Homo sapiens: one gene and its partner. The protein of the gene in region 2 purifies or fractionates together with the protein of the main gene of each other region. This does not show direct contact. Each region holds a gene or a part of one and is shown on either strand. Other genes may lie near its edges.

The links.
Region 1: the proteins of SLC5A12 (region 2) and MELTF purify together in Homo sapiens (affinity purification with mass spectrometry; one large-scale study listed by BioGRID and IntAct). This does not show direct contact.

Annotation. Positions count from the first base shown.
Region 1 is NC_000003.12:197,003,516-197,005,964, forward strand, and holds part of MELTF (melanotransferrin isoform 1 preproprotein), read right to left. Parts: intron 1,230-2,449; exon of another isoform or gene 979-1,229; intron 845-978; exon of another isoform or gene 666-844; coding exon of another isoform or gene 585-665; coding exon 386-584; exon of another isoform or gene 87-385; intron 1-86. UniProt on the Homo sapiens protein: Involved in iron cellular uptake. Seems to be internalized and then recycled back to the cell membrane. Binds a single atom of iron per subunit. Could also bind zinc.
Region 2 is NC_000011.10:26,666,498-26,670,198, reverse strand, and holds the end of SLC5A12 (sodium-coupled monocarboxylate transporter 2), read left to right. Parts: 3' UTR 1-3,179; downstream 3,180-3,701. UniProt on the Homo sapiens protein: Acts as an electroneutral and low-affinity sodium (Na(+))-dependent sodium-coupled solute transporter.

The sequences.
Region 1 (2,449 bases), on a different chromosome or scaffold from region 2:
CTCTGGGGTGGGGGTGGGGGCATCTTTCGGGACCGAACTCGCCGCAGCCTCCCTCTTTGTGCTCCTTTCCCCTGCTGCCCTTCCAGATGCGCTCTTTCCAGAAAGGCAGCACACGCATGTCTCTGCCGTGGCCCCAGATCCTCCCCGCGCCGCCGTTTTGAGCGTTCACACTCATTACCCAGGTCCGTCTGGGAGACCCGCCGGGCTCCCGCCCTCCCGGCCCGCAGCCTCCTGGCCAAAATCCTCCCGGGACACCCCACCTGGACTGCTGCGAACGGGCCTCCACCCGCCTCCCCGGACCCGCAGCGCCCCCCGCTCCCTCAGGGTTCTGGGGTGAAGGGGTCTGAATAGCACCAGGGGAGGCGGCAGGGCGGGCCTGTCCTACCTGCGCCCGAGCACTGCTGAGACGACATCCCTTCCAGCGCCGCCACGTAGTCCAGCCCCAGCCAGCCGCGGTAGGTGGTTTTCTCTCCGACAGGCACCGCCCGGACGGTGGCATCCTTGAAAAGCAGGTCTTGGCCATGATAGTTGGAGGAGTCGAACATTTTGAACCCGTTCTTATTGTGGTCGTCTCCAAACAGGTCCTGGAAGCACCGCAGGCAGACGACCTGCTCCTCACTGGGCTCAGGCAGGGTCACCCGCCCAGTGCCGCTAGCTGCAAATTGCTTTACATACAGTGACCCAAAGAGCAAGTCATTTCAGGGCCCCACCACTCTGATTGGAAGTCATAAGCTTGACAACTGATTGGCCTCTGTCACCCAAGCGGGTGTGGGGACACTAGGCCCGCAGGTGCCACTGGAAGAGGCGTTCAGAAGCACTGCGGTGCTCCAGCTCCTGGATGCAGGTCTGAGGCCTGAGATGTCCAGGAAGAAAGACCCAGAAATGAGGGATGGTGTGGGTGGGATTCCTGAGCGTTCTGCTAGGCCTGCTGAGCACTTCTTGGCCTTTTCCATAAGGCTTTCTCACTCTGTCTTACAGATATCTCCCCACAAACCTAAACAATTTCGAGAGGGACTTGTGTTCTGCAACCAGTCACAGAATATCAGGTGAGCTGGGCGTGTCTTCACTGACCCACCCGCCCAGGGATGCTGCACTCCTCTCCACCCTGCTCAGAATCACTAGAATGACCGTTCTGTGGCTACAGCCCTAAAAGAGCTACTAAAAAGACCAGAAGTAGTATGAGAACTTATGAATACGAATATAAATAAAGGACATCTGGAGAACATGCATGAATGTCTATGTAAAGTGTTAAGTACTGATCAAGGAGGAACGAAGGAGTCAGGTGGCTCTCAGTCTTTTTGGAGGGACTCGCAGATCCTCCTGAAGATCTGATGAAAGCTGTCAGCCTTCTCCCCAGAAAAATGCACATCCACCCAGGATTCTTCTCCCACATTACTTCAGAGGACTTAGCAACCCCCTAGGGAAGCCCAGGGACCCAGAGTAAAGCACTCCTGGGATAGAGGGGTTCTGTGGGGAAGATGACAGGAAGGAACATGCGTCAGTTCACAATGTCAAAGTTTAGGAACAGGCCTGGCGAGCCAGCCAGCTCTGCAGTTCTGTGGTGCTGGTGGGTGTGGAGAAGGCAATTTCAGCATAAGTCGGGGGAGGGGGAGTGGTTAGAAACCAGTGGCTCCATTGTGAGACAACCTGGGTTTAAATTCTAGGTATATTTTGAAAGCACAACCAATGGGATCTGCTGATAGATTGGCTGTAGAGCACGAGAGGAAGACCGGAGTCAAAAATGACTCCCGAGGAAATGGAAAAGCTAAAGTTGCTCTTAATTGAAGTGGGGAAGACTGAAGGAGGGACGGGGGTCCAACTTTGGACTTGATCCATTTGAGATGACTGTTAGAAACACAAGTCAAAATGTCAAGTATGTAGTTAAATATGCAAGTTTGGGACTGATGTCTGAAGATGTAAATTTAGAAGCCATCTGTATATAGATGGTATTTGATGACATGGGATTGGATGAGATCAAGGGTAAGCTGTAGACAGGGAAGAGGGCTGAGAACTGAATCCTAGGGCTAACAGGTCAGGGAGATGGGGAGGAAATCAGCAGAGAAGACTGAGGAGTGGCCAGAGAGTGAGAGGACAGCCAGGCAGGGCTGAGGACCTGGGCATCTGCAGGGGAAGGTGTTTCCAGGAGGAGGGAGAGCTGTGGCCAGTGCCACTGAGAGGTCAAGTAAAATGAAGACTGAGAAATGGCCACTGGGTTTAGCAACATGGGTCACTGTGACCTTGACAAGAACAGCTTCAGGGCCCTGGTGGGAGCCTGTCTGGGGTAGTCTCCATCCTTAAGAGGGGCCAGAGGAGAGGACTTGCTAACTCAGTCTCCATCCTTAAGAGAGGCCAGAGGAGAGGACTTGTTAACTCCAGAGCAGACCACTCTTTGGAGGAGTTTTGCTTCGAAAGGGAGCAGGATTGGCCGGGCACAGTGGCTCATGCCTGT
Region 2 (3,701 bases):
CTTTGGAGAAAATACATTGTCCATAAGACTTGTACTCTGCTCATTCAACTCATGTGAGCAAGCTCAACTCACTCCACCTGGGTTAGGTAACAGAAGTGGAGAACTTCATAGTTCGTGTCTAGAAAATAATGTTTAAAGTTCTGGAGAATGAGGGTATTGCAGATTAAAAGGCGAGTTGACAAATGAAGGAGCAGTGAAAGATTTTTGGAAGAAGTGAAGAAGTGAAATTCTGAAAAGGTAAAAGAAAGAACCAGTATGTCACAGGGGCCAAGTCAGAGGACAGATAATAAGAAACAAAGTTGTATCTGAGAGTCATATATTAGGACAGGTGTCAGATATTTATTTTGGTGGCCAGATAAAAGCAAAAGGCCTAGAAACAGTGTGTTAGCAAAGTAAGAAGAAATGGTCCAAATAGGCAAGGATAAGGAAATCCAAAGGTTGTCTTTAAATATTTCTCAAAAGAGAAAGCCTTGAAAGAAGCATACAATAGAGAAAAAATAAATTACCAGTATTTATTATTAGAAAAGATAGAAAGACAGACAAATCAGTGGAGGAATTAAAACAGAGAAACTGGAGTTTATAAAACAGAGCCCAATCCTTGCCTTCTCTCCCTCCACTCAAATAGAAAAGGAGAATGGAGAAAGAGAAAGAAGGTATTAGGCTACAGTTTATAAGAGAGATGAGAAAAAAATACATTTGGGAATAGAGGGAAAGGGTCAAAAGGGGTCACATTTGGAGAAATATCTGAAAATGAGAAGGAGCAGAATTTTTGGAAACATTTTTTAAAGTCTGGCAACGCTAATTAAGCTGTTGATCTAAGGATTTGCAAATTGAGAGGTGCAATTATTTTCCAAATGATTTGTGACACTCTTATTAATTAGAATATATATTTTGTGAATATTGAAATCTGAGCCAAAACTAGTTAGCTTTATTAATATCTTAGGGAAAGAAGAGAGAAAGAAAGAGGGAGGGAGAGAGAGAAAGAAAGAAAGAAAGAAAGAAAGAAAGAAAAGAAGAAAGAAAGAAAGAAAAAGACAGGAAGAGGAAGAGAGAGACAGAAAGAATAAAAAAACAGCAATTCTGAGGATGAGAATAAATTAATGGTAGGTATTACATATGCATATACATATATATATCTGTACACATATATATGTAAATATGATTTGGAATACATCAGGATTGTGAACTTCCACTTGGGATAGCATAAAAGCAAAATATACCATACAATTTTTCATTTTACTCACAAATTTTACTCACAAATTCTCCTAAAGACATTTCACTAGGTCAGTACATTTCCGAGAAAGTTTTAAAAACGTTTCTTCTTTTATAGTCCCTAATTATCTTACCTGGAGTGTTATCAAAATGTCATACAACTGGAAAATGCAATTATTATTATAAAAATATCTCTGCCTTCTCTTGTGTAATGAAATTTATGGCATTAGGAGATGACATTTCAAGAGATTTTAGAGGTCAATGTAGAGACTCCCCCCATTCTTCTTAATTGAACAAACATGCATAAATCTAGGGTTTCAGGTAGAGAGCAGATGGGAATCTACAGGAAACTGTCTTCCATAGTGTATGAAAACCGTGTTTGTTGTGTGGTGAAGCAAAAGGAAACTATGAAGCGCACAGTCAATAGATTCAGCTAGTGAGTCCCAGCACTCCTTTCAGGCCCTCACTAGGATTAGCAGCCCAGAGTCATGCCAAGGCCACTGGTGCAGTACAAAGACAGTTCAGTGACAAGTTCCATCCATACCATGGAAGAGGGTTAAACTTGTGGCTGTTTTTGCCACAGCATGACCAGAGACATTCTCAATAAATGGCACTAGGAATGATGAGTTTTAGAGGGGCCTAAAATGTTCCAAACTTGATACTCACCACTGTACCTTTAAAGCACAACCACAGATATTGGTAAAAATGGAACAGAATTACCTCAATACCTCTTTAACTCATTCTGTATGAATTCATTTTGATGACAGACATTTTTTGTCACCATTTGGAATAAGAACTACAACAGCTTATGATTGAGGTGAGGAACTGCAGTCAAATGGCTTAGGTTCAAACACGAGTTCTGACACAAATCTAGGTAATTTTGGGCAATATTTTAAAATCTTAGTTTATTCACCAATTAATAGGAGTAAAAATTACCCCTACTTAATAGAATTATTATGAAGATTTATATAAGTAAATCATATAAAGTGCTTAGCACAGTGTGACTGGCCCACATGGAACATTTAATACTTGGTCTGCAGTATATGAAGAAAATGGTGTACATGTTAACTTAAATGGTTTCATTATTTCTCTTCAGGATTTTTAAGATGTGGGATCAGAATATATGTTACTATTTTGAGAATTAGAAATAATAAGAAAAACAGAATGTATACATTAAAAGTCATGCCTAAATTTCCAAAGAGTAGTTTTTTTAATGCCAGAGTTTAAATAAAATATTATTTTCCAGAGAGTAACTTTTCTAAAGGTCCTAAATTCTGAAAAGAGAGAAAACTACTGTTATAAACAAGTTTATTACTAAAAGATGCAATTCATTACTATGATTTATTATTATTTTGTACATGTAAACCTTGATAAATAAACAGCATCTCAACCCAAGTTTATTACTCATTGCACAGTTCAAAGCAACTATGACTCTCAAAATAGCAACAGAAGGTGGGGAGGGTCTTTTCCCTTTGTTTATATAGTATTTGCTAAAAATGAACTTTACTATTTTGTGGCTTTATAGGGTTACACCATTTCATTCTAAAGAGAAACAAAAAGTAAACCATTGGCCATGTGGCTTTCAAACAGTATTTCAAAGAGAATATTACTGAAATATTTTTGTGCTGTTACAGTCTTAATCAAACATTATTACAAAGATCAGATACGGAAAAAATAGAGGAGTCTCCCCTTAATTGTTCCCTTTGAAATAAATTGTTTTAAATTATTACAGAAGTTATAGCTGTATGTACATGCACATTTGTATATTTACAAGTCTCATGTACTTAATCTCAATATTGCAAATTAGCTAGGTTTACTATAGAGTTAACTGCTTTTATCTAGCATTTATAATCTTGTAGTATAACCTATTTTCAAATAACTAAAATTTAATTGATGTCATCAATGGTACACATGAAAATGATACAAATTTATAAACTAATAAAATGTAACTCGTCATTGATAGTAAATTACTAATGGGTAGATTTTATTGGTAATTCTTGGAAACAGATAATATCATTGTTTCCTCTCCCACCCCAATCTCCTGAGTAAATCAATGTAGATTTGCAAATACTCATGTGAATAACAAACATGCACAAGCCCATTTTTCCAATATTATACTTTGGTGTTTCAAATATTAGCCATCTTCAGAAGACAAAGAGTTAAGCTCATAAGTATGTAACTTCTTAATCACAACATGACCCTTTCTTGAAGTGTCAGGCTGTCATCATAAATTAGAAAAATAATCTTACCCTGTGGAGCAAGATGTTCATTGATAATGATATTTCAGTACATCGATAGGACATTTAATGTGATATTTTTGTATTTTCAAAATCTTTTGCAGCTTTTTAATTTCAGAATCCTAGAATACATCTAAATCTAATGTTGTTTATACAACTAGTTAAGATTAGGAAAAATGCCTATAAACAAGTATAGGTATATAATTTATATATAATTATTTAAAAATTTTTTAAATTAAGTTCCAATGTAAG